Regions from separate parts of the Homo sapiens genome. Here region 1 is linked to region 2. Evidence: fine-mapped expression QTL. Tissue or cell type: fibroblasts. Region 2 holds a variant in brackets; the other region holds the start of a gene. All regions are shown on one strand. Distances are between the middles of the regions.

Evidence for each region. PIP is the estimated chance that this variant, and not a neighbour inherited with it, causes the effect.
Region 1: HTR7 starts here. The variant in region 2 is fine-mapped to the expression of HTR7 in fibroblasts (GTEx, PIP above 0.99).

What each region holds. Positions count from the first base shown.
Region 1 is chr10:90,851,890-90,868,848 of GRCh38, forward strand. HTR7 (5-hydroxytryptamine receptor 7) reads right to left here and starts at 6,150. Exons shown (of 4, transcript NM_019859.4): 1 at 5,244-6,150. The coding sequence starts at 5,782. RefSeq lists silencers at 5,748-5,797, 5,818-6,187.
Region 2 is chr10:90,898,548-90,915,506 of GRCh38, forward strand. It overlaps RPP30 (ribonuclease P/MRP subunit p30), which reads left to right. Exons shown (of 11, transcript NM_006413.5): 11 at 2,023-3,644. The coding sequence ends at 2,132. ANKRD1 (ankyrin repeat domain 1) reads right to left here. Exons shown (of 9, transcript NM_014391.3): 9 at 13,549-14,429. The coding sequence ends at 14,319. Among named protein-coding and RNA genes, the nearest start is that of ANKRD1, 14 kb to the right of the region's middle. The variant T/A (reference allele first, on the strand shown) is at 8,379.

The DNA.
Region 1 (16,959 bases), 47 kb before region 2:
CTTGCCTGCTGCCATGAAAGACATGTCTTGCTTCCCCTTCACCTTCCACCATGATTGTGAGGCCTCTCCAGCCTTGTGGAACTGTGAGTCAATTAAACCTCTTTCCTTTATAAATTACCCAGTCTTGGGTACGTCTTTATTAGCAGCATGAGAACAGACTAATACATTCAGTAAAAAAATAATGCTGGGCCGGGCATGATGGCTTATATCTGTAATCTCAGCACTTTGGGAGGCCAGGGTGGGAGAATTACTTGAGGCCGGGAGTTCAAGACCAGCCTGGGCAACATAGCGAGACTGTCTCTTTATGTGAAGTAAAAAAAAAAAAGTTTTTAATTTAAAAAAATAATAATGCTAATAGGCATCTAACTGGGCAGAAGAAAATGATCTCAGATGAAAATGTAGTAATGCAGAACAAAACAAAGAACAATGGAAAAGATAAACATGTAAGCAAAGAAGAATGAATACGGACTGTTACAACAATAAAAATAATATCTAATGGGTTTTAATAATCTGTAGACCTAAAATGAATGACAATAATAACATAAAAGGTGTGAGGGGATAGATAAAATTAAAATGTTCCAAAGTACCTTATTACCTAGGATTGTATTTCCCCAAAATAAATTTAAACATATCCACAAATGACTTGCACATAAATAAATGTTCAGAGCAGCACTATTAGAGATAGCCAGAAACTAGAAAAAAACTCAAATGTCCATCTACGGTGAATGGATAAGCAAATTATGGTATATTTATACAACGGAATACTACTTATCAATAAAAATGAATGAACCACTGATAGGCTAAAAACTACAGATGACTCTCACAGACATTATGTTGAGAAATAGAAGCCAGATTCAAAAGAGTACATACTATACAATTCCATTTATATGAAGTTCTAGCCAAGCAAAACCCCAATGCATGATGCTAATGTCAGGACAATGGTTCCCTTTGCAAGCAATAGAAACTAGAAAAGGAGAGGAGGGGACCTCTGGGAGGTTGCCAGTGTTCTATTTCTTAATATAGTTGTTTACATGGATGTGGAAATTCATCAAGCTTCATCCTTAGAATTGTGCACATACATATACTTTTCTATATGAATTTCAAAAAGTTTTAACAAATATTTCAGTCATACAAAAAGTTATACAAAGGATAATAAGTCTATATCCACCACCGAGATTAAGAAACAAAACATTACCAATATAGGTGATATATATACTACTGATTACACCACCACCCACCCCACCAGAGATAAATCACTGTCCTGAATTTGGCGTCAACCACTCCCTTGCACTATTTTATACTTTTACTCTTTCTACAAGCTTCCCTAAATGATATGTAAAACTATTTTTCATGTTTTAAAACTATGCATAAAAAGTAATTTGATTTCTTTTTTTTTTCTTTTTTTTTTTTTTTTAAGACAGTGCCTCACTCTATTGCCCAGGCTAGAGTGCAGTGGTGTAATCTTGGCTCGCTGCAGCCTCAACCTCCTGGGCCAAAGTGATCCTCCCACCTCAGCTTCCCAAGTAATTGAGAACACAGGCATTTGCCACCATGCCTGGCTTTTTTGTTTCTTTTCTTTTCTTTTTTTTTTTTCCGTAGAGATGGGAGTCTCCCTGTGTTGCCCAGGCTGGTCTTGAACTCCAGGGCTCCAGCAATCCTCCAGCCTCAGCCTCCCAAAGTGCTGGGATTACAGTTGTGAGTCACCACATCTGGCTGGTAATTTGATTTCTATTTTTAAAAGATCATTCTTAAATTAGCACAAGGGAACTTTCTTGGATGACAAGATATTCTATATCTTGATTAGAACATTAGTCACATAGGTATATATATTTGTCAACATACAAATTGAATATTTAAGATCTGTGCATGCCATTATATGTAAATTATCTCACTTTAAAAAGTTTCTAAATAGACCATTCTTGCTTCTTCTTAGGGAATAGCTCGGGGCTGGACAGAAGTGGAACCAGGAAAGCCAATTAGAATATTGCAGTAAACCTGATGAGCATCAAAGTCATCTATCTAAAGCGCAAGGAAGAAAAGACAACTTATGGATACAATTCTTTGAGCAGCTTAACTGTGAAGCAGAGCCGTGGCTGGAGGAAGAAGTGAGGCCAGAGGCCAAAGAAGGGTTTTAAAAGATAGAAAACCAAACTTGACACAGTAGAAAGGAAAAGCTGAAGAAAGACCATCAATAAGCTGGGCCTGGTGGCTCACGCCTGTAATCCCAGCATTTTGGGAGGCCGAGGTGGGCGGATCAGTTGATGTCATGAGTTTGCCAACATGGCAAAACCCCGTGTCTACTAAAATTCAAAAATTAGCCGGGTGTGGTGGCGTGCACCTGTAATCCTAGGTATTTGCAGGGGCTCAGGCACGAGAATCACCTGAACCCAGGAGGCGGAGGGTGCAGTGAGCAGAGATGGCACCACTGCACTCCAGCCTGGGTAACAGAGTGAGATTCTGTCCCCCTCCACCTCACTCCCCCCAAAAAAACAACAAAACAATAACAACAAAAAAGACCATCCATGAAGAAACAATAAAGGAACAAAGACCTTGAGAAGGTGGGGAGATGGAATATAAAGTCCAAGTAGTTTGGTATTTGCTGGCTCACAATGTCTTTTTGCTTTTTAACTGGAAAGAAGTAAAAAGAAGGGTACACATGCAGGACAGATCAGATTGTTTGGTGGGGGAAAGATAAAAGTTCTCATCTGATGGCTGCTACTTTTTCAATGAATACAAATCATTTTCTGAAAAAGACGGGATGGGAGCTCTGAAGCCTGTGAAAAACAGTATGGCATTACATTAGAAAAGCATCCCGGTGTGATGGGGAGTGGTTAAGAAAAATGAAAGGTTCCATTTTAGACAGGCTAAATGCCCAACAGATATCCAAACTCTCCAAATACACAAAAGCCTGTAATGAGCACAAAAGCAACAATATTGTAATTAATCTTTGATTATGCTGCACAAAGCACAGTGTAACCTATATTAGGTACTCAAGAGGGAATGAACAAGGGAATGAAGATTTTTTTTTTACATATTTTCACAGCACATTTAATATCATCTGTCATATTCTACAACGGAATTGCAGAAAACATGCTTTTCAGAAATAATATATTTTCCTTTTTTCTCATTTTTAGTTCTCAGTGTTCTTGGAAGAAAATCAGTCTGTGTCTTCCAATTTTATCAATTCTTCATTTTCTCTAAAGAAATGATATGCTGATCTTCTAAAATAATTTTTAAGCAGAATTCACCAATGGGGCAATTCTCATAGGTAAAAGGAGAATCTATATGCCTATGTTACCACAATTTGTGACAATCATAAGAATACAGTTAACAACAAAATCTTAAGCTCTTGCCAAGAAGGATTAATGTCTTCTCAGTATTCAGGACATGCCTGCCGATGCTAAGTCACACATGCACGCTGAGTGGAGAATGCCTTTAGCTCATGTATAGGAATCACAAGGTGATCTCAGCCAAACCTCAATGTAGCCCAGAAGAGGAGAAACACTGGCTGTCTTAGGAGACAAATTAGCACAAGGTATTATTTATGTATCATTTATCAACTGTGAAATTTTAAAAAATGGTTATAAATACAGTACTTGCAGCATAAACCGTTATTTGTTTTATTACACTAAGTTCCATTTAAAAGGACTCCATTCATGCAGGATGCTCTGTTTTGGTTGGCTGAGCAGTCAGATTTCTGTGCTTATAATTCATGTATACACTTACTATGTGTATTGAGTGCACTCTCCTAATTCCAGTTGCCACAGTCAGACTGTAAATACATATGTTTTGTCATTCTTAACTACTGTAATTCAGAACTTCAGCTGCCAAATTTGGTGCTAATATTCTCACATATGCAGTTCATGCTCTGCTCTTAAGTAATTCCTTGTTTGCTGTCAGCAGCTTCTACCATGATATATAAAATGGTAGAATCAATTTAAAGAAAAATAACCTAAATTGTTAGCTAAATGGAGCTACAATGTGTTTTTCTTCTTGAAAATATTCCCTTTTCTATTATTTCCTTTATTTAGTAATTATAAACCCTGGTCAAGCAAAAAATACATACAGCAGAACATTTTAAGTACCAGCAAACCACAAACAGCAGTGTTTTCAAGAAGAAAAAAAGGAAAATCTCAGTTTCATGCTAGACCATCCTTTGAGGCACTGTCATTTTAAGTGTGGAGGCATCAATTATTTCCCCTAGGCTGAAAGATCTACACATATAAAGGTTCTATAGATCCACTAAGAAAATAAGCAACCATTTCTCTGTATCATTAAACACAACAGGATACTAGTCTTGAAACACCGGCAAAATTCTGAGTGTGAATATTAAGGTCTCATATTTCAGTTTCAAGTGAAATAGAGTTGTTTTAGGCCAAAGAGGATTGAGACCATACTTCAAGTTGTCAACTGCATAATATTTCAAGGGTCAAAGACTAGCTCCATTTCAAAAGCCTGTAACCTTACAGCCTGAAGAAACCCTGTGGGTCTCCTAGTTCAATATGACACCCAAGGCAGGAATTTTTCCCCTAGCATCCCTGACAGATGGTCAGCCTCTGTTTCAATTACTCCAGTGGGGGAGTTCTCAAGAGAAGGTTCCCAAGGGCTATGATGAAAGGCTAGAACCAGCCATTCAGACCTGGAGGAAGGCTCCAGTCAGCAAGCTCGCAAGATACAGACAGCATTACCAAACATTGAAACCAGACTTCCACAAGCAAGAATGCGATTCCGAACTGACCATCATAAAGATGCAATGTGTAAGACATACAAACCCCAATTCTAGAACCATCCAAGGTCCTTTTACTGGCCTAGGGAGTAGCTCCCACAATGGGGTAAGCAAGGTGGCTTTTCTCCGACTTATTATTATTATTTTTTAATGACTCTTTAAGGCTCACAGCAAGGCTTGATCAAGTCAGGGAGCACCAAATCCCTTCCTTCCAAAAACCAAGGCAAGGGACCCGCTGGTGGAAATGCTAAGGCTTAAAATACTCTTAACTTTGGTCTTAAATTCGTCACTACAGTAAACCAGAACATTTCCGGTTTTTCTTTTAAAGATGTACATAGGCTATGCCGTAACCGAAGTTTGGTTGGTGTAGGGTGGATTGGGGGGAGCGGTGTTTTAAGCGCAGCCCTTCATCCCGCCTTGAAGTCTAGCTTGATCCTCCCAGGAAAGGCGAGCGCGCGGGGCTGAGCTGCCAGCCGGTCCCCAGCCGGAGCCTGGGACGGGGCGGTCCGGCCCTTACCTGTCAATGCTGATCACGCACAGGGTCATGATCGAGGCCGTGCAGCACATGACGTCCATGGCGATGAAGACATTACAGAAAAAGTGTCCAAAGATCCACTTGCCCCCGATGAGGTCGGTGACGCTGACGAAGGGCATGACCGCCACAGCCACCGAGAGGTCGGCCAGCGCCAGGGACACGATCAGGTAGTTGGAGGGCTGGCGGAGCTTCTTGACGAAGCACACGGAGATCACCACCAGGCAGTTGCCCGCGATCGTCAGCAGCGTGATGAGCGTCAGGATGGAGCCGATCACAACTTTCTCGACTCTGCCGTAGTTGATCTGTTCCCCACAGCCGGAGGCATTGTCCGGGGGCGCGTCCCAGGTGGGCGCCGGGCTGGCTGTCACCTCGCTCAGCAGGTGCGGCGCCCAGGAGCCCGCGACCGGGTCGGCGCCACCGTCGGGGCTCAAGTCGGGCAGCCCGCGCCCCACTTCTGGCAGAAGGAAAGAGCGGAGGTGCCCGTAGAGGTCCGGGCGGCCGCTGCTGTTAACGTCCATCATCGCGCCGCCGTGTGCCGCTGCCCATGGAGCCGGCGCCCCGGCCACGCGCCTCCGGCTGCCGGCCCCGGGGCTTCACCTCACCGGTTCCGCTCCGCCCGGCCCAGCCATGGGGCCCGCGCCGACCGCTGGGGGGCGCCTGGCTCTGTCTCGGAGCCCCGCACTCCCCGGACCCCCGGCCGCTGCGGGTAACGCGGCAGCGCGGCCTCACGGGGACTCCCTGCGGGAGGCGCTTCGGCCCCCGACGGACGCCTGGGACGCGCGGAGTCGAGGGAGCTCGGGCTGGGCTCCGCTGGCAGCTCCACAGTTCGCAGCAGCAGCTCGGCTGCGCCGAGAGCGCCCGGGCGGCAGCGGCAGAAGTTGCGGAGTGCGCCCCGCCCCTCGCGCCCGCCGCCGCCGCCGCCGCCGCCGCCGCTCCCCTGCGGCAGCCGCGCCGCGTCCCCGCCGCCGCCGCCTCCGGCCGCTGCCCGCTCCCTCGCGCTCCTGGGACGGGATACCCGGGCTGGGCAGGCACCGCCGCCTCTCCCGCGCCTCCCTACTGTGAGGGGGCGGCGCTGCACGCGCCTCCCGGGATCCCGGGTCCCCTCGCCCGGGAAGCTGTCCTTGCCGCATGATAGATACTTAGAACCCCTCCAGCCGACCCCAGCCTCCGCACACTAGTCAGCCACAGTTCAGTGGGGGCATTTTTCTTTTGTTAAGAGGCCTAATGAGCCAGCGGATGTTTGGGCTCATTGCGAAATGAAGAACCTAGAGGGGGATTTTATTTTTCTTAATTAAACAACAACCAAAAAAACGTCTCTGAGCACTACACTAAGCAACAAATAGGTACTTCCGTTTTCTATTTTGACCGCTTATGGGAAGAAGCGAAGATGGAAAAGAAGCAGCCGAATGGGGTGAGGGTGGGAGCTCCGAGAAGAGGAAGAAAGAAAAAAAGGAGGGAGGGGGATTCCTTAAGCCCCTGGCACCCAGGAGATGAGGATGCTCTGGGGACAAGGCCTCCAAGGGGGTTACACCCATTTGGACTAATCCTTCCTGGATGTCTAGAAACAGTCCTCTCCGCTCTGAAAATAGACCCTGATTGCCTTTATATTTAGACTTCAAAGCCTAATATATTGAAAAGAGAGTTAATTTTCCCGTAGCATTCTGGAAGTCTTACACATAAGCAAAGAAATGACCGGTTATACTCTTCTATAAAGGAATCCTGGAGGTGTATGTTGATTTAATACCTATTGGCTAAAATTCCCCTTGGTATCCAAACCCTGTCAGAGCGGCTGATTTTTATTATTTGTGAGACTTGCTTCATTCCATTTTGTTTGAAGGTTTCATTGGAAGCCAGCAGTGATTTCTGTAGTTTAAGACTCTAAAAATAATCAAATCTGTTTTTTCTTGTTAGGCCCTAGCGGATTATAAATAAGAAGAAAAGGAATAAAAACCTCAAAGTATATTGATCAGAGTGCTGAATAGTACTTTCATTCTTCAAGGTGGGTATTAGCTCTGTTTTTCCAGATAGGGAAGGTTGTTAGCTCTTGCAATCAGCTGGTAAGGAATAGTTATGTTTCAAACCCAAGTTTATCTGATTACTATGCCCATATTCTTCCCTGTACACATTCAGAAAAAGTTTTAATGGAAAAAAAAAAAAGCCCTAATGTTCACAGCTCTTTTGCTGTGATCAACATTTCAGAGGCTCCTCTCTGCCTAGGATAAGCAAACCAATCCATTGAGTCAGAGGAAGAGTTGAATATAATACCTAGGCCACAAAGCAATATTATCTAACAGTTAAGATGGATGAGGAAATTTCTTCAACCTTACTTATGTTAGTTATTCTCTGTTTCGCTTTTCTTGGTTTGTTATCTGTGGTGAACCACGGTCCGAAAATATTAAATGGAAATTTTCAGAAATAAACAATGTGTAAGTTGTCAATTGCACACTATTCTGAGTAGCGTGATGAAATCTCTATCTTACCCAGGATATGAATCATCCCTTGTCCAACATATCCACACTGTATATGCCATCCACCATTAGTCACTTAGTAGCCCTCTCTCTTACCAGATCAAAAAAAAAAACATAGTATATATACGATTGGGTACTATCCGGGGTTTTAGGCATCCACTGGGGATCTTGGGAGAGAGGAAATCTCAGACAAAAGACAAATAGTTTGTTGCTGGAATGCATCTAAGAAACCATTTGTTCACCCTTCAGTGCAGAGGAGGAAATAGAGGCTGGGAGAAATTTTATAACTTATCCAAGATCATATGTGACTGCATTGAAATGTCTCCATTTTTTTATTTTGAGGTTTGGAATTGTCTTAAGGTCTTTTAAAAATTCCTTCATGTAGTATATTCCCCAAGATACTTTTGATATTTTTTTCATTTTAACTTTTCAACTCATTTTAACTTATTTTGACTTTTGTATTCTTCCCCTTGAATACCCTAATCAGTTCAGCTTATATATTCTGTCTTGGCTCTGTCAAATAATATTCCAGAGTAATTACACACAGATTTTGAAAATTAATCATTTTATTTGTATTTAAACCTCTAGTCAATATGATTTACCACCTACACTCTTACAGCCCTCACGTAGCCCATTTATATTTCACAACAGCTTCTAGTTTTTGCTTTTGTCTTGTTTTAGTCCCTTTGGGATGCCATAACAAAAATATCATAGCCTGGGTGGCTTAACAACAAACATTTACCAAGAACAAGGCAACAGTAAATTTAGCCATGTTGCTGTGTCCTCACCTGGCAAAGGGGGTAGGAGAGCTCTCTGGGTCTCTCTTTCTTTTTTTTTTTTTTTTTTTTTTTTTTTGAGACAGGGTCTTGCTCTGTCACCCAGGCTGGAGTGCAGTGGCGCGATCTCGGCTCACTGCAACCTCAACCTCCCAGGTTCAAGCGATTCTTCTGCCTCAGCTTCCCAAGTAGCTGGGATTACAGGCACATGCCACCACACCTGCCTAATTTTTGTATTGTTTTTAGTAGGGACCGGGTTTCACCATGTTGGCCAGGCTGGCCTCAAACTCTTAACCTCAAGTGATCCGCCTGCCTCAGCCTCCCAAAGTGCTGAGATTACAGGCATGAGCCACCAAGCCTGGCCTGGGGTCCCTTTTATGAGGGTACTAATCCCATTCAGGAGGGTTCTGCCCTCATGACTTAATCATCTCCCTCTCCCATCTGACAAAGTCCTAATGTTCAGAATCTATAACTTAAATGAAGGAACAAGCAAGAAACAAATAACCCCATTAAAAAGTGGGCAAAGGACATGAACAGACACTTCTCGACAGAAGACATACAGGTGGCCAGCAAACATGAAAAAATGCTCATCATCCCTAACCATCAGAGAAAATGCAAATCAAAACCACAATGAGATACTCTCTCACACCTAATGCCACCACAATGGGGAGCAGGATTTCAACATACCAATTTTTTGGAGGAAACAAATGTTTATTCCATAACAACTTTTAAATTGTGTGACATATAAATACAGCAAATAATCATTAAAATACTATTTTTTAAATTACTACCTCCTTCATTGTCAATATAGCATCAAGTCCAAGCTCCCTTTTTTATAGAACAGTCACCTCTGTTATATTATCCCTAGTGATGGCTGAGTGTATTTCCTAAGAGTTGCTAGGTTTCTAATTTATAAGCTGTCACAATGCATAAACATAGTTATTGAAAATCTCGGCTTCTGCAGCATTACTTTGCTTATGTTGAGTTTAAATTTCATCTATCATTGTGTTATTCCAAAATCCTGACAGAGCAATCTGGAATTCTTTCAGTTTCCCTTTAACCTTCACTAACAAATAATTGTGTCCTCATAAAAATGCCAAAATCTAGTGTATACTTTTCTGTAATTTTCTCACAAAGAAATGCCAAAGATATAGCTTCACAAAATATTCATAAAATATCTAAATATTCATCTAAATTTGTTGTTTGTTCTGCCCTTAGTTTTCTGGTGTTTAAAAGCCATATCAAGGTGTTGCTTCCTTCTTCCCTCCCGCTGCCCACCCACTCTTCAACAGTTATACCAGAGACAGTAAGTAAAGTGTTGGCATCTAAATCAAATCATGTCTTTATTTTCTGTCCCTTTTATTCCTAGCATTTAAAAAAATTACTGCTTTTAAAAGTACTAATTCTTATCTAGACTCTCATTGCCTACAATAGCATTCTCATAAGATTGTCAGTGAGGGCACCTGAGAATACAGCTTTCTGAGGTTTCCAACTGGCAATCTGGCAATCTCCTGCTCTAAGAACTGCTCTCGGAGAGTGCAGAAGAGCTGTGGAGTCCTACATCATAGTTACTGTCTTTTTATCAGCCCTTCTTCCCTCTAGGTACTCATCTAGCTCATCTAAATGCATATGCGTAATCCCATCTATGAAAACCCACACATATCCCTCCACAGGACATAAGCTTAGGATAGTTTGTTTTCCCATAAACCTTCATACCCTGACAACCTAGATGTACTTTAAGAAGCACAAAAAAAGCTTCCTAAGCCATAGGGTTCATTGGCAACTCACTAGTCAGTCAAGCATGCTGATATCATGTCTATCGGGGGTCTGATGGCCTCCCATGCCCAGTGCAGCGGACTTCCACAGGGCCACTCTTTCATTTCTCCAAATTTTTCAGTCTCTCACATTTGTACCCCATTTCCTCACTCAACTAGACTAATTATCTGGGTGTCCCTTGCCCCCAGAATTGGGTGAGAAAAGACTAGGGAAACTAGAATGCTTAGACAGTGTAGTACTAAGAGTATTGTAAGTAAATATCCAGATACTACCCTGTGGCCTTTATTGGGGCTACAGATCACTAATACAGAGAACACACATGCTAGAGACAGGGACTCAAATCCATCAACACAGACATTTTTGAGGCCCAGTTAGGATAAAAGCAGTTAGTCTGGGACACCTGAATGTCTCCTTCTCAGTGACAGCACCCCTCGCCATAGTTAATTTCATTCTTTGTAGGCTTTTAAAGCACTTTTAAATTATATTTATTATAGTACTTACTGTTGCATTATGCTTCATATTTCCATGACTGTCTTCCCCATTAGACTGTGAACTTATCAAAGGGAGGGATATTTCCTTACTCCTGCCATATACTAGGTGTTCAATAAACATTAGTCAGTTGAACTGAGTGTAGAATAATGCCTATAACCAAGAATCATTCATGTTGTAAAGTAATTCTTCAGCCTAAAAGTGAATTGTGTTTTGTTTTAATTTAGACATACTAAAAATAAAAACATTTTTTCTTTGATTCTTTCCATTTAGAAAATTTTCATTCTCTTTACAAAATAAAGGTAACCTTTAAAAAGTTTCCTCCAAACAAGATAAATGAAAAATCAGACAACAGCTACATCCAAGAGCCCTTATTTATTTTATTAATCACTCAATTTTTCTTAACCAGGACTGTTTTCGAAATGTATGTGGTGCATGCATACCCCCTAGTGGGGAATCTATTCAGCAGCACAAATTCCACAGAGACAACTTTCATGGAAAGTTTTTATCAATGAACACATTTGACATTGTCAGCTCCCAATCCTTCCTGAAAGATTTCTAATGAGAAGAAAATTTAAATTCCTCAATTAAAAAATAGATTAAAGTAGCAATCATTCATTGAGTCAACATTAATTAATGAGTGTCTAATGCAAACCAGATATTGTTTTAGGAGCTCTGTTTTAAAAGGACACATTAAGTTTAAGATACTATTGGATTATTCAAGTGGAGATGTCAGCTATGCAGATACAATTTCAGGGGAAAATCTCCCAAGAGGAAAAGTAGTTACAGAAGAGTCCTGAGGATTTAACCGTGGGATGCACCAACATCCTGAGATCTTGGAGAGGAAAAGAAACCAACAAAGACTGAGAATGAGGGGGCAGTCAGGCAGGAGAAGAACCAAGAGAAATTGGATATTTAAAGTCAAGGAAAGAAAATGTTTCAAGGGGGTAGAAATTGACTGAGTTAAGTGCAAAGTAAGGCAAGAACTGTTTCAGTGCAATGGTAGGGGTAAAACAGATTGGAATGGATTCGAGAGATCAAAAGACAGAACATGGCAATTCAGAAGGTGGACAACTTTTGGAGTAGTTTTACTCAAAAGGGCAATCAGTAATTGGGGCAAAATCTAGAGAGATTTGTGGTATTTCAAGATAATCAAAATAGAAGTAAGGCTTTCATTGAAGAAGTGATAGGACACATCTTATTCTACAGTTTCTTTAGAATTTTATGAATCCTTCTATATTCAACAAAATGATATCTTAAAGTAAAATTACCATCACAGTCATATCCCATTTCTAGGAAAAACTATGCCTAATCCATTATTTTATTTGATTTGTTGCGACTTTTTTTCTCGAGATGGAGTCTCGCTCTATTGCCCAGGCTGGAGTGCAGTGGTGCGATCTTGGCTCATTGAAACTCTTCCTCCCGGGCTCAAGCACCTCTCCCTGCCTCAGCCTCCCAAGATGCTGGGATTACAGGCTCCTGCCACCACACCTGGCTAATTTTTGTATTTTTAAGTAGAGATGGGGTTTTGCCATGTTGGCCAGGCTGGTCTTGAACCACTGACCTCAGGTGATCCACCTGCCTTGACCTCCCAAAGTGTTGGGATTACAAGTGTGAGCCACTGCACCCAGCCTGATCCATTCTTTTAGTCATTCAATAAGCATGCCCTAGCTACATATTAATAGGCACTGTGCTAAGTGCTGGGGTCAATAAATAAGGCAGGTTCTCTGCTCTGCAGATGTTCATTGGTAGAAGAGACAGACGAGTAAATAATTACAGTACAATGTGAAAGTCTCCTAATATAGGTATGAACCAAAGGTATGAGAGCCCAGAGGAAAGAGGTATTAGCCCTGCTTGGAAAGACCAAAAAATTCACAGAGCTAACATATCAGCTCGAGTAGAAAGTTCATTAGAAGACTGAGGAAAGGAGAATGCAACGCTGACAGGGTCCATAAACACATGGAAGACTTGCCATAGCTGTGGAAAATGGCAAGGGTAGACCTTTGGGGAAGATCACAAAGAAACCTGTGTGCCATGCAAGGTAGGTATGAGTTTTACTCTGCGCAAGAAGGGTCACATTATTTTTCTAAAATAAGTTGTTGACTGACACTAATTGTTCAATAACACATTTAAATGTTTTTTCAAATACTTAAAAATCTAAAAATGATTCTTAGCTTGCGAGGCATACAAAAACAGGTGGCAAACCGGATTTCACCCATGGACCATAGTTTACTAATCTCCAATTTAGACTAATTACTGGCAAGATATTTGTAAAATTCTAGTGTTCCAATATTATCATTTTAAGTTCTCAATACAATGCACTGCTGTTCAAAAACTTCCTTTTGTAATTTTTATTCGCACTAGCAGTAGCAATTGAAAAAGGCAAATTAAGCAATATTATCATCAAGTCTAAAGGTTTAAATCAGAGTGTCTTTTTTGGATCATAGTCTTCGACTTCACAATTTGGTGCTGCAATAAAGGGTTAGTCCATAATTTTCATATCTGAAAACCAGTTTCAGTGCAAAAAATGGGCTAGATCATTCCTACCCAGATGAGTTTCCCAAAGATGTAATTTTGTTATATATGAATAAATCTGCTTATATGATTTTTTTAAGGGGCAGGGGTTATATCATCAACCACAAGAACCAAATCTTTGATTCAGCCATCACTGGTGAGCCAAGATGGATATTTTAACCTTGATGACATTAATAAGTAAATTTCTTTCAGCCGCTCAAAATTGAGTTCTCAACATCCACTGTAGCTATTTGGAGCATGAACTGTGTGGGCCATGGTTAGTGCCTTAGCTATTATTGGTATGGCTTTTAAATTTAGAGCTCAAAGTGGTTTCTTGTTAATGGTACAATAAATTGGCTTAAATTCTGTGTCTTGACAAAATCTTGTTACATCGTGCTTATATTTCATAAGTCTGATGGTAACACTGACCCCTACTGGAGTCCCATCCGTAGCCATGGTTACCAATTCTGAAAAGTGTACTTTAAAATTCTAAAAAAAACAAAAAACAAAAAAAAAAAAACCTCTTCTCCATACACAAAAATAAGCTACTTCCTAATGTGCCTTTTTGAAGCGCCATTTCCAAAAAAAATTTTTAGTCATTTCAAAATACTCTCCAACACAAATAGCTTTTAGGTTTCTATACACTTATCAGCTGCAACGAAAAAATGCCAGAAATAACTTAGGTTTTTTCATATAACTTGTCTTGCAAGCTCTAAGCCATATTTACAACATACTGAGCAGTAAAAGCTACAGATATTACATTTGTAAATGTTAGTTTCTGTTTAGGACTTGTGCTTTCTTTTGCCTCCAATAAACTTTCTTTTTAAACTTGCCTTTGATACAAAGTTTTTGTTGCCTGAGCAATTTTTTTTTCACTTAATATGTAAGCATTTCTAGACAGCATCACTGTGAAAGTTAATTTTATGTTTCAACTTGACTGGGCCATGGGGTGCACAGATATTTGGTCAAACATTATTCTGGGTGTGTCTGTGAGCATGTTTCTGGAGGAGATTGACATTTGAATAGGTAGACTGAGAAAAGCAGATTGCCCTCCCTAATGTGGGTGGGCCTCATCCAATCAGTTGAAGGCCTGAACAGAAAGCTGACTATCCCCTGAGAAAGGGAAGATTCCTTTGCCTGACTGCCTTTGATCTGGAACATCAGCTTTTCCCTGCCTTTGGACTCAAATTGAAATGTCAGCTCTTTCTTGAGCCAGCCTACCTGGAACTACACCATCAGCAATTCTGGTTCTCGGGCCTTTAGACTCAGACCGGAATGACACCATCAGCTGCCCTGGATCTCCAGCTTGCTGACTGCAGATCTTAGGACTTGTCAGCCTCCATAATCACTTGAGCTAATTCCTTAAAATAAATCTCTCTCTCGCTGTCACTCTACACACACACACACAAACACGTTGATTCTTTTTCTCTGGAGAATCCTAATACCATCATTTATTCTATTTGTTTTTCAAAAATCCTGTTGAAATTTCAGTCCTCTTCTTTACATTTAAGTCTATCATCATGCATCTTTTCCCTATACCAGTCATAATTCTTCCTTTGATTTCTTTCATAATGGCTCCTTAAATTGTATTTTTTTTAAAAAATCAGGCACACTTTACATCTTAAAGAGGTAGGACTACTCTTTATTTTCACAATCAAGCATGTTCTTATGCAAATTTTTGTAAATACAAGCCTACATCTGTCTCATTTTCCAATTTTTAATAGAAACATGAGTGTAAAAAAATTTCACTTTCATTTACCTGCACTTCAAAAGAAAACTAATATTGCAAGCAGGGGCAGATTACCCCAGCACAGAAAGTGGACAAATTTTTATGATATCAGGTCAGTAACAAGAGTTTCTGGGGGAAGGTAAGAAGATGAGGAAGGAATCACTGTGAGCTGTGAGCAGCTCCCTGGATTGGTGATGTCCTATGGAGTGCCACTAGAGTTCTAGGTTTAGCAATTAACCCCTCTGGTCTGCTTTATGAGGGCTTCTGGGAAAGGCTGGGCAGATGGTTCACTGCACAAACTTCCAGATATGTGATGAATAGGGCAACTGTAATATCAGCCTGGAGTTAAGGCATCTTCTTTTAGTCTCCCCAAGAGCTCCTATAAGTGTCCCACCATGTGGGACACAGAGGATGGTTCTGTTTCAGTTGCTGGTGTATCACACTAGTGCACCATGTGCACAGTTCAGTGAATTTCTGGCCAGGTGATTAAATAATACATCCAACAGTGCTACAATTCTGTTGATATGGGAACAAAGTCAAACAAGAGGCCATGAGTTCATTTATTCAATCAGTTACTTTTGGCTGAGTACCACCTACTTTGTGCCAGCTCTGGATATACCCTCAACACCCTAGATCTCTGTCTCATGTATGTTCCTCTTCCACTTCCATGTGTCAAAATTTAATTCAAGCATTACTCCCTCAAGGAAACTGCCATTTTTTCCCTTCAGATCTCCCAAACTTCCCTCTCAATCTGGGAGATAAATCTCTGCTTTGTGCTCCCAATACATCTGGCTAAATCATTTTATAATATGGTTTTCTTGCCTGGCTCCCCCTCGGCCTTAAGCTGCAAGAGGACAGGGGTTGGGTGGAGCATTTTTCAGTTCACTCAGGAGGGGTGAATGGAATAAACTTAGGATAAGGCCAAAGACTAATCAAGCACACACCCAAGCCCACACACAGCCCAGAAAAGAGAGCTCTTCTGGGAGGATGAGAAGGGCTCAATGATTGCGTTGGATGTGAAAAACCATCCTCTTTTTCTAGGCTTCCCGCAGAAGAAGAAATGACTCAAGAGCCATCCTATCTGAGCCCAGGACTTCTCCTTGATATAATGGGAATAACAATATCTCTCTCATTGGCTATTGTAAGGATCAAATCAGATAACTGATGTAAAATGCTTATCATAATTATACAGTACTTTTTTTTTTTTTTTGAGACGGAGTTTCACTCTTGTTGCCCAGGCTGGAGTGTAATGGTGCAATCTCTGCTCACTGTAACCTCTGCCTCCCAGGTTCAAGAAATTCTACTGCCTCAGCCTCCCAAGTAGCTAGGATTTTTAAGAGACAGGTCTCATTCTGTCACCCACACCAGGGTGCAGTGGTGCAATCCATAGCTCATTGTATAATAACATGGAACTCCTGGGCTCAAGGGATCCTCCCACCTCAGCCTCCCCAGTAATTCAGACTACAGGTGTGTGCCACCACTTCTGGCTAATTTATTTTTTGTAGAGACAGGGTCTCACTTTGTTGCCCACGCTAGTCGTGAATTGGCTTCAAGTGATTCTCCTGCCTCAGCCTCCCAAAGTGCTGGGATTACAGGTGTGAGCCACTGCTACCAGTCTTAAACAGTACTATTATCTTCCAGTCAGAAATTTCTATGGTCTTCTTCAAGGTGCAGATACTTGTTGCCACAGCCATCCCTTCAGGCCAACTTCTGACCCCTCTTCCCTGTTCATCTCCCCTATTCTGTCTTGTCTTTTTCTTCTCTCCACTTCTCTCTCCCCTCTTCCACTTCTTTCCTTTCCTTCCTTCTCCCTTCCTACTTCTCCTTTCCTCTACTCTCCTTCTCTCCTCTCTGGTCTCCCTTCTCTTCTTTTCTCTTCTTCTCCTCCTCCCTCCCAAACAACTCTAGTCTCTGCTTGCTTTGCTCAGGAAGCAGTACACTAGGCA
Region 2 (16,959 bases):
TGAGTGCCACATTTAAGAAGGACAGCAGTGCACTGAAACACTATTGGAAAATGTCTACTCAGTCCTTAAAGGGTCTGGAAGCCTCATGATGAGAGGAATCACGAGGGTGGTGCAGACATGGATACCTGGCAAGCAGAAGAGTTGGGACACATGGTAGTTAGCTTTCAACTTGGAAGGCTTGCCACAGGAAATCAGAATTAGGTTCTTTGGGGGTCCAGAAATCTAGAAACCAATGAATAGCAATTCTGAGGAGGTTGTGGGGAAAGGACAGAGGAAAGAGGCCCAAGGTCAGGGTCTTTGGCCTGTGATTGATAAAGTTCATGCCCTCAATCAGCCCCTGGACCAAAATGAACCTGTTGGGGACACCTGCCTTAGCCCCTTGTGAACAAAATTATTCACTCGTAGATAATCCTTTAGATTTTCCTTGGCAAGATGATTAAAGGAAATACTATATGTGAAAACATTTTATAAACTAAAGCATACACAAATGTAACGTCTTGCTGTTACCAAGAAATGCATTTATTTTTAAAAGACACTAAAGAAATTAATGCATTTTGTTAAAAAGTGCTGATTTTCATAATGTTTATATTTCAGTTGATTTTTAGACTATGGGTACAGAATCAGTGACATAAATTAATAGCTATAAGTGTGACGTTTTTCATTTGGTGAAATGGAAATCATTGACAGTTTTTATTTTGAGGTTCTTATTATGTTGGCATTTTAATGACCTTGAGAGCAGTTTTATCCCTTTTACAAATAAAAGTGTTTTAAAATAATTGGCAGAGTAGATTTACTAAGTTAATCTTGATAAATGGGAAAATAATGCTTAACACTTTATGGTTGACTTTACGTTTATTACTTGAAATAAGGAATAATTCATAGCTAAATTTCTGTTCAAGTTCTTTTGATTCTGCCACCTTTGTAGCTAATGGGTATCTCTCTCTTTCTCCATAATCCCTTTCCATTTCTAAGGACAGAGTTTGGGTCTGTTTTCATGACACTATGGCCTTTCATAAGTTACCCTTCCAAACTCTATTTTCTCCTAATTTTTTTGTATTCCTACTTCACATCAGCCATATTGTCCCCTAAACTATTTTACCTAGGTTCTTCTTATCTTTCTCTCCATGCCTTTGTAAAGGAATATTTCTCTTTTTCTTACTCCGTTTACCCTATTCTGAGTAGTGTCACCTTTATATAATACCTCATTGCTTTAACCAGGCAGTTAATTCTTGTGGATGCCTCCATTCCTATTATATTTGCTCTTATTGTGCTTCTCGCATGCATGTAGTATAGGGAAAAGCACTGTCTGTTAGGAATCTTAATACCCTCTGTATGGACACAGTGCCTAGCCTATTAGTAGGTTTCTAGGAAAAATTGGTTAAATTTAAGTTGAACTCTGCTGCCAGCCTAATCTAAGCATTTAATAATTTCTATTTATTCTTTGTTCATTGTCACCAGTTAAAGAGATCAATAAATTTATGAGTGATTTTATTCATTAACTCAACTAGTATTTACTGAACACATTTTGCATAACCAGGCCATTGTTGAGTGTTGGCAATATAATGCAATTGATTCTTCAGAGGTACCTTGATGTTCTAATAAGAGAGATAGGGTACATGCTGTAAAATGAGGCAAGCATGTGCTCCACATGGGAGCCATACACTTGATTGCTGTGTTTGCTCTCTTGATTTGTCTGTCTACCATATATAAAGTGTCTGCTACATCAATGTCTGTGACTGGGTTCTGGCTACATAAGATGCCATGGACAGACCATTAGAGATAACACTGTCCTGCAGTTTTACCCATGAGGTAATCTTTAGGAATGAATTAGATGTTAATAATATACTGATATTTGTGTCTGTTGGGAAAAAAAGATAATGACGGTAAATGGCACTAGCAGCCATAGCAGTTCATTATGGCTTATCATTTGCTATTGCTGTAAGCCAAAGTAATATGTTAAACCACCTCATTTTAAATTATGTCTTAACTTCAAGCACAGTGGTTTCCCTGTTTGTTTTACAGAAACTAGAAAAACTGCTTTTGGAATTATCTCTACAGTGAAGAAACCTCGGCCATCAGAAGGAGATGAAGATTGTCTTCCAGCTTCCAAGAAAGCCAAGTGTGAGGGCTGAAAAGAATGCCCCAGTCTCTGTCAGCACTCCCTTCTTCCCTTTTATAGTTCATCAGCCACAACAAAAATAAAACCTTTGTGTGATTTACTGTTTTCATTTGGAGCTAGAAATCAATAGTCTATAAAAACAGTTTTACTTGCAATCCATTAAAACAACAAACGAAACCTAGTGAAGCATCTTTTTAAAAGGCTGCCAGCTTAATGAATTTAGATGTACTTTAAGAGAGAAAGACTGGTTATTTCTCCTTTGTGTAAGTGATAAACAACAGCAAATATACTTGAATAAAATGTTTCAGGTATTTTTGTTTCATTTTGTTTTTGAGATAGGGTCTTTGTTGCTCAGGCTGGAGTACAGTGGCATAATCACAGCTCACTGCAACCTCAATCCTGGGCTCAAGTGATCCTCCCGCTTCAGCCTCTCAAGCAGCGGGAACTACAGGTGTGCACTACCACACCTGGCTATTTTTTTTTTTTTTTTTTTTTTCCCTTGTAGAGACATGGTCTCACTATGTTGCTGAGGCTGGTCTCAAACTCCTAGGATCAAGCCATCCTCCCGCTTTGGCCTCCTAAAGTGCTGGGATTACATGAGCCACCACATGCAGCCAGATGTTTGAATATTTTAAGAGCTTCTTTCGAAAGTTTCTTGTTCATACTCAAATAGTAGTTATTTTGAAGATATTCAAACTTATATTGAAGAAGTGACTTTAGTTCCTCTTGTTTTAAGCTTCTTTCATGTATTCAAATCAGCATTTTTTTCTAAGAAATTGCTATAGAATTTGTGGAAGGAGAGAGGATACACATGTAAAATTACATCTGGTCTCTTCCTTCACTGCTTCATGCCTACGTAAGGTCTTTGAAATAGGATTCCTTACTTTTAGTTAGAAACCCCTAAAACGCTAATATTGATTTTCCTGATAGCTGTATTAAAAATAGCAAAGCATCGGACTGAACCAACTTTGGAAATAATTTATTTTTATAATGGGATCATGTTAAGTAGAAGTAGCTTTTTATGCAAATACATGCATTTATGCAATATTAATGTAAGGGCTCTAAAACAATGGAGTAGAGCCAGAGGTATAACTGAATAAGAAATTTTTTTAAGCAAGAGAAAGACAACTGTTCTGCGGGTTGGAGAAAATACAATTTTTTTTTTTTTTTTTGAGACAGTCTCGCTCTGTCCCCCAGGCTGGAGTGCAGTGGCTCGATCTCTGCTCACTGCAAGCTCCGCCTCCTGGGTTCATGCCATTCTCCTGCCTCAGCCTCCTGAGTAGCTGGGACTACAGGCGCTCGCCATGTATTTAGCAGAGACGGGGTTTCACCGTGTTAGCCAGGATGGTCTCAATCTCCTGACCTCATATTCCACCCGCCTCGGCCTCCCAAAGTGCTGGGATTACAGGCGTTAGCCACTGCGCCCGGCCCGAGAAAATACAGTTTTAAAAAGAGAAAGCTTTATAACCTCACCAATGAATACAAATGTTTAAATAAAATATTGATTAAAAAAACATTAAAAGTGCATCATGACCAGGTGAAATTTATTCTTTTTTTCTTCTTCTTTTTGAGACAGGGTCTCACTCTGTCACCCAGGCTGGAGTGCAGTGGCACAATCTCGGCTCACTGCAACCTTTGCCTCTTGGGCTCAAGCCATCCTCCCACCTCAGCCTCCCAAGTAAGTGGGACCAGAAGCATGCACCACCACATCCCAGCTAATTTTTGTATTTTTTTGTAGAGATGGGGTTTTGCCATGTCCAGGCTAGTCTCAAACTCCTGGCAGATTCAAGCAGTCTGTCCGCCTCAGCATCCCAAAGTGCTGGGATTACAGGCACAGGCATGAGCCACCATACCCGGCCTTCCAGTTCTTTTTAATGCAGTATCCTTTATCATATTCATAGGTCAAAAGAGAAAAATCAGAATATTTTTAATAGATGCCAGAAAGACATTTAATAAAGTTAAATCCACTCCTGATTTTTAAAATGACAACAATAAAAACCCATGGCAAAATTAAAGTAGAATAATATTGTATGCATACATATATATGTTCATATGTGTCTGTTTTTTGTGTATATTAAATGTGATGGCTCCAAAAGCATTTTTGACTACCGCTTGGCCAATTTGATGGATTAACCTACTCATTCCTTCTGTAAAACTGAGGCTGGTGCTGCTGAGGCCACACACCAAAAGTCTGCCACTTCCTTGTGTGCCAGTTTGCTTTTTTCCTTCACCCTGCTTAAGTTCACCAAAAGTCAGCTGTGTTTATTCACAAATCTGTTTAAGGCAGCTGTGTTTAGCATTGTATGTAAATTATTTTTTTAAATATGAAAATTGATGAGCTATTGGGGGCAAATGAAAAATTCCCGGGAAAACTAAGTCAACACTTTGGAAAGGTTTGGAAAAGAGTCATTACAAAGAACTGCTGTCAAATTAGATATGAGAAGGATAACAAATTTGGGGGTGATCAGTAAAAACTCTGCACTTGGATTGCTTCACTAATGTCAAGTTCCTTTTCTGCTTTAAAGGAACTAGAATTCAACAAAGACAACTTTTGATCTCTCATCAGAGAGATCATACTCCCAAGAACAGGCTTTGACCCTTCTTTAAAAGGTTGGTACCCAAGTATACATTTATCTATTTTAAGCTTAAAATGCTTAACAGGATGTATGTTCAATTTTTTGCGACGTCCCACCTTAATTTATGAATTAGTGATGTACCAGCTACAGTTGCACCAGATACAGTAAGATTTTCATGTTATAGAAAGGAGGTAAAATTATTTGCAGATACGACTGTCTTGGAAAACTCGTGAAATAAATGGGAAAAAAGTAGAAATACAGGTACCTTTCAGCTTACGTCCATTTACTACACATTTGTGTAGTATGTGTTTGCAGTTGTGCGTGCTTTCTATTCATACATGTTTATGCCATTGTTCATGATAGTAGGGCATGATGGCTGATCACCAGTGAATAGCAGAGGCAAGTTTCCTTCTAATATTTACTTTCGTTAGAATGAACCACTAATTTAATTGCTACAAGATGCCAATACCTCTGCCAAACCAAGATGAAGTTTGGCAGAGTGGCCAATTGTATAAATACACAAAAACCAGATTTTGATTAATAACCTGTTAAATAATTTTAAAAGATGACACTATTCACAAAGACATAAATTACCAAGAAATGTGTAGGGCCTCTATAAAGAAAACTTAATGAAAGTAATAAGAGAATAAAGGGAAAATAAAGACTAGAATACATGGAAAGAGACATTCTGTTTTCTTGAATAAGACAAATTGTAAATCAAATTCTCCCCCAAATTACGCATTTAACAAAATTTAAAATCAAAATGCTTATAAGTATTTTTTGTTTTCTTGTTTATGTATTTGGTCTTTGGACTTGGTATTCTGAAAGAGTAAATATGAGAATTGGAAATTTCAGGAAAAAACCTAATGGGAGGGACTTACAATGCTGAATATTACAGAGTATAACAAAACTCTAGTACTGTAATTAAAACTAATTGGTGCAGAAATTCAGAACAGTGAAAAGAGCAGGAAGTCCAAGATCATACTTTAGATATAAGAAGAAATGATGGATTGATTGTTCAGTAAGTGATACTGAAATAATTGGTTATCTATTTGGGAGAGGCAGTACAGCATACCAGTTAAGTGCATAGGGGAAAGAAAAACTAAATGCATTTAAAGCCCTACTTGCTAGTACTCATTAGCTATGACCTTGGGCAAATTATGTAACCTCTCTGTGCCTCGCTTCATCTGTTCTCCCTACCTGTCACATTATTGCAAGGATTAAGTAGGTTAGTATTTGTGGAAGGCTTACTTTGAACAGGGCCTGTCATATAAAATGTACCAACTACAGCCGGGTGCCATGGCTTACACTTGTAATCCCAGCCCTTCAGGAGGCCAAGGAGGGCGGATAACTTGAGGTCAGGAGTTCAAGACCAGCCTGGCCAACATGGCAAAACCCCGTCTCTACTAAAAATACAAAATCAGCCAGGCATGGTGGCCCATGACTGTAATCCCTGCTACTCGGGAGGCTGAGGCAGGAAAATTGCTTGAACCCGGGAGGTAGAGGTTGCACTGAGCTGAGATCGCACCACTGCATTCCAGTCTGGGCGACAGAATGAGACTCTGTCTAAAAAAAAGAAAGTACCAACTATTTTATTATTTATTACTTCATTATATTAATTTAAATATTGAAGTGTCAGCTATCATTTAGGAAAAAACTAAGTCAAATCTCTATCTCACACCCAATACACACCCATAGTAAATCCAGGTAGATTAAAGATTTAAATTTTTTAACAAACTTGTAAAATACTAGAGGAAAATGTAAGTTAATTAAAAAAATAATAATCTTGGATTGCAATAGACCTGCCGAGCATGGTCATCAAAGCCAGAAAACAAAGTTTGATTGATTTGTCTCTACATAACAACAAGTAGGAAAGTACATTTACAATACATATTCCAGGAAGGTTTCATATGCTTAGCTTTTAAGAATTTTTTTTTTTTAAATACCCAACATGACATGCTGTTAGCATCCATAGAGATCCCCATTCCCAGGGTGGTGTACCTATATTGCCAGTGCTTCAGATGTTGGGTACTAATGACTTATCTTCACCCTTTTCCAGAGGATTGTCCTGGGCTGATGAGAGTCACTTTACCTGAAGATACCTGGGAAGTTTTGTCTCCTCTGAGGTTGGCCCATGGCCAGTGACTGATGCAGGACATTACAGCCTGGCCCACTGGCCTCGGTGGTACAATTTATGCTCCTGAGCACCCCATGGGATTACGCTGTGTGTGGATTTCTCCTGAAACCACATATTTGCCTCTTCTGCCCTGTTCTGTTTTTTCTCATTCCCTTATAGAGGACTCTCAGTAAGTCACTTACACAAGAATCCTAATTTGAAATGCTGCTTCCAGGAGACCTGACTTAGAAAATTGGACAAATAAAGTTGATTTTTTTAAATGTCCAGTAACATGAAGATGCTGAACTTTCCTAGTCATTTAGGGGGAAATCACCACAAATATATCTGGCTGATCAGGTTGAAAGTTAAAAGAAAAAAAGATTTATAAAGTGGGTATTTTCAAGATGGTGTGGAGGGAGATACAATTTGATGCAAGTCTTATACTTTTGATGTCAATTTATTCTTCAGAAATAACTGGTTAATTATAAAGGGTGGATGGATAAGGATATTCACTGCAACAATGTCTTAAATGTGAAAATGGAAACAACCTAAATACCCAATAATAACAGGATTAAATAATTCATTGTACATTAAAAGAATACTGTCTATAAAGATGTCTAGAATAAGTTGTTCAGTTGAAGTTGTAAAGCTAAATACACAATACCCATAATGTGCACAGAAATAATCAGAATGTCATGAAACCAGGATTATTGGTGATGTGTTGCTTCCTTTGTTACTCATTTCTGTATTGGCATAATGAGTATTGGGTGTTCAAGAGGAGGGGGAAGGAAGTATGACAGATGTTATGGGGAAAAAGCAAAGTACAACAGGAAGACACCTTGGGGGAACTAATAGAATCTAAGGACTCAAGGATGGCTTCCTGGAGGAAATACAGCTAGAACAAAGGGGAGGAATGAGAAGTGATGTGATGGCGTGGAGTGGGCTGTAGTGGGAAGAAGAGTCTTCCAGGGAGCTGGCACAGTATGTGAAAACAGTAAAGCAAGTGCCTGGATTTTTTAAGGAACTGAAAATTTAGTTGAGTTGAAATTTAGAGTTTGGCTAGGAAGGTTATGAGAGATAAGAATAAAGAGTTAACAGCAGCCAGATTTTAAGGATTTTATAAGACATTTTTAGGAGTTTTTATTTCATCCTGAGAGAAATGTGAAGCCATCGAAGGGTTGAAAGAGGAGAGTGAGTTGATCAGCATTGCATTTTAGAAAAATCCCTCTATCTGCAACTTGAAAAACATTCTGGAGGTAAGCAAGCCTGGAGGCCAGGAGCCTAGGAGGGCTATTTGATCCAGATGAGAAGTAATGGTGACCTGAACTAGGGCAGAGGCACCTAGGATTGGAAAACATGGACAGATCACAGCACTACTTATGTAGTATACTTGGTAAGACCTGGTTGTTTAAAAGAGAAGGATGAGGGAAAGAAGGTCAAAAACAACTTCTAGGACTCTCCATTGGCCAGTGTGGTGTGCCCTTCACTGAAGAGCAAACACAAAATGAAAGATTGTGGGCAAAGAGTTGAGTCAGTGAGAAGGCAAGGAGAGAACCTTATAAAAAAA[T/A]TGACTATGTGATTAAAAACTTAAAAATTTCCCCCAACGTGTTTATCTTTTCCATTAGCAGAAATAACTAAGAGTTGTCTTAATTCTAATGGGATTTATTCCATATTGTCTCTCATGCCCTCTACCTAGTTATTAGTGCAAATATTTATATGTGGCAACATAAAACTTTTTAACTCTTTATTCTCTTCTCTCGTGTACCCTCCCAGCTCTTTAGGGGAGGTGGATTTGAGGCAGATACCATAAAGAAAAGTTGGTCACATGGTGGTAACACGTTGAAGTTATGCCACATGAGACATCAGCACTGGCAAGAGAAATGTCTGTGTTGTAGATGTTTCACTTGGAAGAAATTGAAGGACCCTGAGCCTTAAAAGTCTGACAAACTTAAGCCAGGACCCCTGTGGGGAAGGTAGAGGGGCCAACAAACAAGATTGGGAGTCAGAGAGATAACAATGAAATCCCCAATGCCTGTGGGAGGTGGACTCCCTGGATTAGTACTAGACAGAAAAGGTACAAAAATATTTCAAACCATTCTCACAACTCTATATGTGTCTATGACCAGATAACTGGAAGACCTTCTGGTTATGGACTATGCGTATACACTCTCCCAGATAGTTAGAGGCATATCTAAGAGGTTAACATATATGATCTTATCCAAAATGGGTCTCTTGGTGCTAGTGTTTTACATCAGACTTCACTGGCTTTCATGTATTTCCACAAGTGCCAAACATTTCTCATATCCTTGCTGTATTCCATAGAGCAGTGTTCCTGCTACCTGGAACACTTGATTCTTGAATAACTCCTGTTTACCTTTCAGACAAACCCTAAAGGTTACCACCTCAAAGAAGTCTTTATAGAAGCCTCATCATCTTAGACACTCTGTATTGTTTCCTTCATCGTATTTACAACAGACAGATACTGTGCACTTACTGCCTCACTTAACGACAGGGATACGTTCTGAAAGGTGCATCATTAGGCGGTTTTGTTGTGTGAACATCACAGAGTGTTACTTACACAAACCTAAATGATACAGCCTACTAAACACCTAGGCTATATGAGCAATACAGCCTATTGCTCTTAGGCTTCAAACTTGTACGACATGTCACTGTACTGAATACTGTAGGCAACTATAACACAGTGGTAAGTATATTGTGTATCTAAACAAACATAGAAAAGGTAATGCACTGTACTATGATGTTACAACAGCTAGGATGTTGCTATCAATAGAAATTTTTCAGCTTCATTTTATTTTTATGGGACCACCTTTGTATATGTGGTTCATTGTTGGCCGAAACACCATTCTGTGGCACATGACTATGTATTTATTCCTCATTATTCCTTTAATATTCATCTCTTCCAGGAGGGCATGTCATGGACAATCTCTTTTTCTTACCACAGGTCTTAGGACCTGGCCTAGCACCTGGCCAAGAACTACTGGCATACCTCCTTTTATTGTGCTTCAATTTATTGTGCTTTGCAAATACTGAATTTTTTACAAGTTGAAGATTTGTGGCACCTCTGTAACCAGCAAGTCTATTGGTGCCATTTTTTCAACATCATGTGCCTGTTTCCTGTCTCGCTCATGTCACATTTTGGTAATTTTCACAATATTAAAAACTTTTTCATTATTATTATATGTGTTTTGTTGGTTAGTGTTCTTTGATTTTACTATTATAACTGTTTTAGGTAGCCACAAATTGCACTCATATCGGACAGTGAACTTAATCCATGAATGTTGTGTGTGTTCTGACTCCTCCATCGACCAGCTTTCCCCATTTCCTTCCCTCTCTTCAGGCCTCCCCATTCCTTGAAACAAAACAATATTGAAATTAGGCCAATTAATAACCCTACAATGGCCTCTAAGTGTTCAAGTGAAAGGAAGAACCACACATCTCTCTCAATCAAAAGCTAGGAATGATTAAGCTTATTGAGAAAGGCATGTAGAAAGCCAAGATAGGCTGAAAACTATGCCTCTCACTCAAGTTGTGAATGCAAAGGAAAAGTTCTTGAAGGAAATTAAAGGTGCTTCTCCAGTGAACACACAAATGATAAAGCAAAACAGCTCTATTGCTGAATGGAGAAAGTTTTTGTGGTCTGGATAGAACACCAAACCAGTTACAATAATGCCTTAATCCAAAGCCTAATCCAGAGGCCCTAACTCTTCAATGCTATGAATGCTGAGAAGTGAGGAAGCTGCTGAAAACAGTTGGAGAACTGCAGCGGAAGTTGGTTCATAAGATTTGAGGAAAGAAGCCATCTCTGTAACATAAAAGTGCAAGGTGAAGCACAAGTGCTGATAGAAGAAAGAAGCTGCAGCGAGTTATCCAGAAGATCTAGCTAAGATAACTGATTAACATGGCTACACTGAGCAACAGATTTTCAATGTAGATGAAACAGCCTTCTATTGGAAGATGCCATGTAGGACTTTGATAGCTAGAGAGGAGAAGTCAATGCCTGGCTTCAAAGCTTCAAAGCTTTGACTCCCTTGTTAGCTGGTGATTTTAAGTTGAAACCAATGCTCATTGACCATTCTGAAAATCCTAGGGTTGTTAAGAATTATGCTAAATCTACTTTGCCTGTGCTCTATAAATTGTACCACAAATCCTTGATGATAGCACATCTTTTTACATCATAGTTTATTGAATATTTTAAGCCCATCATTGAAACCTACTGTTCAGGAAAAAAAAATATTCCTTTCACAACATTACTGCTAATTGAAAATGCACCTGGTCACCCAAGACTGATGGAGACGTGCATCTGATGAGGATGTACAAGGAGATGAATGTTATTCTCATACCTGCTTACACAACATCCATTCTGTAGCCCATGGATCAAGGAGTCATTTTGAATCAAGTCTTATTAAGAAACACATTTCATAAGGCTATATGCCGTAGATAACGATTCCTTTGATGGATCTGGGCAAAATAAATTCAAAACCTTCTGGAAAGGATTCACCATGCTAGATGCCATTAAGAACATTCGTGGGTCATTGGAGGAGGTAAAAATATCATTAACTGGAATTTGAAAGAAGTTAATTCCAACCTGTGTGAATGACTTGGAGGGGTTCAAGACTTCGGTGGAGTAAGTAACTGTTGATGTGGTGGAAATAGCAAGAAAACTAAAAGTGGAGCCTGAACATGTGACTGAATTGTTGCAATCTTGTCATAAAACTTGAACAGCTGAGAAGTTGCTTCCTATGGATGAGCAAAGGAAGTGGTTTCTTGAGATGGAATCTACTCCTAGTGAAGATGCTGTAAACATTGTTGAAATGACAAAAAAAGGATTTTGAATATTACATCAACTTAGTTAATAAAGCAGTAACAGGGTTTGCGAGGATGTACTCCAATTTTGAAAGATGTTCTATTGATAGTAACATGCTATCAAATAGCATCAGATGCTACAGATAAATCTTTTATGAAAGAGTTAATTGATGTGGTAAGCTTATTGTTGTCTTCTTTCAATAAATTGACACAGCCATCCCAATCTTCATCAACTACCACCCTCATCAGTCAGCAGCCATCCACATGGAGGGAAGACCCTCCGCCATTAAAACGATTATGACTCACTGAAGGCTCAGATGATCATTAGCATTTTTTTTAGCAATAAAGTATTTTTAAGTTAAGGTAGGTACAGTGTTTTTTAGACATCGTGCTATAGCACAATTATTAAACCACAGGATAATGTAAACATAACTTTTGTATGCACTAGAAAACCAAAAAAAATTGTGACTCACTTTATTGTGATATTAGTTTTATTATGGTGGTCTGGAGGTCAAAAATCATGGACCTGTGTGTTCTCTCCTGGGAAGTCTTTGACATTGCCAGTCCCTGTCCACAAGAATTGTTAAATCTCCAGTTAATTTGCATTTTTCTAATGATCAGTGATATTGAGCTTTCTTTTCCAGATGTTTGTTGGCCACATGAATATCTTCTTTTGAGAAGTGTCTGTTCGTGTGCTTTGCCCACTTTTTTGATGGGGTTGTTTTTTCTTGTAAATTTAAGTTCCTTGTAGATTCTGGATGTTAGAGCTTTGTCAGATGGATGGAGTCTGAATGGCAGTTACTTAAAAAGTCAAGAAATAACAGATGCTGGCAAGGTTGCAGAAAAATAGGAACACTTTTACACTGTTGGTGGGAATGTAAATTAGTTCATCCATTGTGGAAAATGGTGTGGTGATTCCTCAAAGATCTAGAACCAGAAATACCATTTGACCTAGCAATCCCATTATTGGGTATGTACCCAAAGGAATATAAATCATTCTACTACAAAGATACATGCATGCATATGTTCATTGCAGCACTATTCACAATTGCAAAGACATGGAACCAACCCAAATGCCCATCAATAATAGACTGGATAAAGAAAATATGGTAGATATACACCATGGAATACAACGCAGCCATAAAAAGAATGAGATCATGTCCTTGGCAGGGGCATGGATGCAGCTAGAGGCCATTATTCTCAGCAAATTAACACAGGAGCGGAAAACCAAACACCGCATGTTCTCACTTATAGGTGGGAGCTGAACAATGAGAACACATGGACACAGGGAGGGGAACAAAATACACTGGGACCTGTATAGGGGGTGGGGTGGGAGGAAGGAGAGCATTACGAAAAATAGCTAATGCATGCTGGGCTTAATACCTAAGTGATGGGTTGATAGGTGCAGCAAACCACCATGGCACACGTTTATGTAACACCGCTGCACATCCTGCACATGTACCCCAGAACTTAAAATTTAAATTTAAAAAAGTCACTAGTTAAGCCTTAATGGGAACTTCGTAAGAAATGCGGGTTTACCATGCAGAAATCATTCTGACCACCAGGGGTCTCTTTCTACACACCACTGGGACTGAAAGCTCGCTAGAATTCCTTTGTGTCTTTATGGCTCTCGGCCTAGCTGCTCAGTGTGGTGGTGGCATTTCGTGGCCTGTCACCTGGGAGCTTGTCAGAAAAGCAGAATCTCAGGCCCCACCTGAGACCAGCTGAATCAGAAATCTGCATTTTAACCAGATCCCCAGGTGATCTGTATACATATTAAATACTGGGAGTGCTGTTGTACGGGACATTTCTAATCTGCAAAACTTGGAAAACAATGGAAAAAAAAAACCCTCCTATATAGCTTTTTTTTTCACATAGGACATTTCCACCACACTTATAGAAGGACTTAGAGGTTTAGAGTTTGATTGCCTTTATTATGAATATAAAATGTACATACAATACAATATACATTTATACATTTACAGTTTGCATTTCCTTTCATCTTTTTTGAGCAAATTCAATTCTGCATGTCCCAGTTTGCCGCTCCTTCCACTGATTTGCACTTACACTCATGACGTTCTCTTCACTTGGGTACTCTGTGTACTCGGTAAAAAAAAAAAAAAAAAAAAAAAAAAAAAATCCAGCCTGGGGGTAAAATAGCTGGCTTCACTGTCCTTTTCACAGAATCACTTTCCTTCCATTGTTTCCTTTCCTGTCCCTACATGCCTTCCCTTGCTTCATTCAAACTTCTGCATTAAAAATTCAGGAGAAAAGAGGGCTGTGATAATCAGCCCTCTCTTAAAAACTCTTACATGAGCGAATGACACATAAGTAGGCACTTGAACTTTGCTCTTTCACCTGGTTTAAGAACTACCTATGGGTGGGAAGGCTCTGAAAGTGTTATATACAAATGAAGCTCTGCTCACCAGATGGATGATCATGAAGGTCTGAATATCAGTAGCGTGGCAGTAAATAAATAAACAGGAATACATAAAAATAAATAAGAGTTTCACTAAAGGAAATTTAAACACCTATAACCCTGTGCTTTCTCAAAACTTCATTAGGTACATCTTCACAACACGTTGATAAATAGAAACTAGATTTTATGGCTAGTGTCTCTTCTCTTGGGCCATGCCTTCAAAATGCCAGTGAACATTTACTGATTAAGAGTCTGTCGTTTGCCTCAGAATGTAGCTATGCGAGAGGTCTTGTAGGAGTTCTCTCTGAGGCTGTCGAATATTGCTTTGGTTCCATTCTGCCAGTGTAGCACCAGATCCATCGGCGTCTTCCCAGCCTAATCAAATGAGATAAGGAAAGTTGACTTTCAGGTGGGTGACATCTGTAAATTCACATTCTCTGTGTGTGTTTCATGAGGTAAGGATTAGGTATATGTTATAACAGTGTTTTATGGTTTCCACCAGGAGTGATCTGCAGTTTATACTCAAACCAGTCCTTCACTGTTTCTCAGAGGGATGCTTTTGCCATTTTAGAGCAAAAATCTTTTTCACGTGGGACCATCCCAGGTATTGGTAAAATCCCTTGTCCCTAGACACTATGTGTCAAGAGCACCTCAAGTCATTTTGAAATTTATAAAATGTCTCCATACATCTTCCAGTATCCTGTGGAATGGACTCCCGGAGGTGGGAGCATGCCTCTTGGACCAAGAATCAGTGCCTATCCATTTGAATGATAGTTCTTTGATTGATAAGAAATGATGGTAAATGAGCTGCATCAATAACTTGGCTTAAGGACTTAGGTACTGCTTGGGTACTATTACTGTTCCTGGGAGCAGATTTTTCATAACTTGTCAGAATTTTCAATGGACTCTCCCAGGAAATGTATTTTTCTTGGAGTTGATGGCAATGACACATGTGAACAAATAATTTTTGAGACGAAATTTTGATTTCCCTTATGCACGTGTCTCAAGATTTAAAAATATTAAAACCATGTCATCTCTCAATTCTCATCTATAGATCTGAGAAGTCCAAAATTTTTCCATCTCTATTCATTGAGAAGTTTCTTTTTAACCCAGCGACTGCAAATTGGCAGCTTTGAGATGCAAACCAGAATAGAGACCTGTTTTGTTTTGACCCAAACAGAACTTAGATTTTTTTTAAGATTAGTATGAATTGGCAACAGTTGGAAACCAAGAGCTGGATTTGTGACTTCTATGAAAAAATCAGAAGAGTTAAAAACATGGTACCCATGGTTCCACAGAGCAACATAGACTGGGTTGGGGAAGGGCCACCTTTAAAAGAGTTATGTGCACAGACCCTGACAGCCACACATTGAAGTCACTTAGGCCATCTGCCCGGCACAGTGAGGTCAGTCTGCAGTCAGATTATGAGATCTGTAGGTATTTAAATTAGTGGCCCTATAACCTTCATTTTGGAACTTCCCCACCTCTGTAGTGTCTTTCTCTAGGAACAATCATCAGTAGACATGAATATACAGTTTTGGATAATGAGAAAATATTGTATGCTGCTCCCAATCTCCTTAAGATGGCATCAATAGGTTATTGATCTTTGGGGGAAACATCAATCCATTGGGTCAATGACATTAATAGTTCCATAAACCTGATGCTAATATCTAACTGATAATTCAGAACCCTAAGCCGTATTTGTATATTTTGGGCTACTCTTCCATAAATTCCTTGCACTTCTCTCCATTGAAATTTATATTGTGATTTTTCTGGCTACTTACACAGTCTCCCTAAACCTGTATGCTATTTGTCTCTGCTGGTAGTGTCTCACTGCCTGAAAAAAAATCTTCACATTTTCTGCAGCTTTCAAGATTTCATTTAACCTGCTCTTTTTCTGATAGTTTAAAAAAATATTAGATAGGATCAATTCCAATATCTAGACTGAGGAAGCCCTACTGTTAACACTTTCCCATCCCAAGCAATCTTCATTTATCACCATTCTTTGATCCTGTCACCAAGCCAGATTTGTTTTAAAAGATAAGATATTCCTCTCAGTCTTTGCAACACAAATAAGGGGAGAAAATTATTTGCATTTATATGATGACTGAGTTTCCCTCCCCCCCCCCCCACTCTTTTTTGTAAAGTGATTCTTCAAAAGCTTCTTTAAAATTATTTCTTCAGAAATTTATACCTGTTCCTCTGGGCAATATTTTTTAAGCTTATATTAGATGGTGTTTGTCTGGAAATTGAGACCATGAGGAAAAGTTGGTTATGTTCCCTGCTTACAGATGAAGTTAAATTAATATGTACTTATACAAGAATTTTCAGGGCCTAAATATAGGAAATTATTTTGAGAGATGTGAAGACAAATCCAAGTGGAGAATGGATAGAAATTATCTGAAAAAAAATACAGGCAAAAGCACAGCTACCCCTGGAAGAAAATGGTGACATTTCACATTGCTGTAAGGAGGAAAGGGACTTTCTGAATTACTCAGATTGGATATTGATTAACCTTAGTTCACTGGCTGCACTGACCCTTGTGGAATTTTAGGACATTTTGGAAATGGTGGATGCCTTTATTTCTAACTTCCTCAGCCCTTGCACAGACAGAAATGGCCAAAGCAGATTGGACTTCTAGGTGTTTGTGGGGATGAGCAAATTTTGACTATCTTTCATTTCCAAGACCAAATTGTAAAAGAATTACTATGCACTGTATCAGGCACTGAGGTCATAGCAGTATCTATGACTTCCCTCATCTCTGGCCATGTGAACTGGGTCCTAGCCAAGATAAACACTGTCCTTGGGGAAATGGGCAGGGGCATTTAGACCATCGAAGACCCCTCAAATACTGCCATTGTGGGAGTCGTTTCACCTATTTAAGAAATGCTCCTGGAAATTGGAA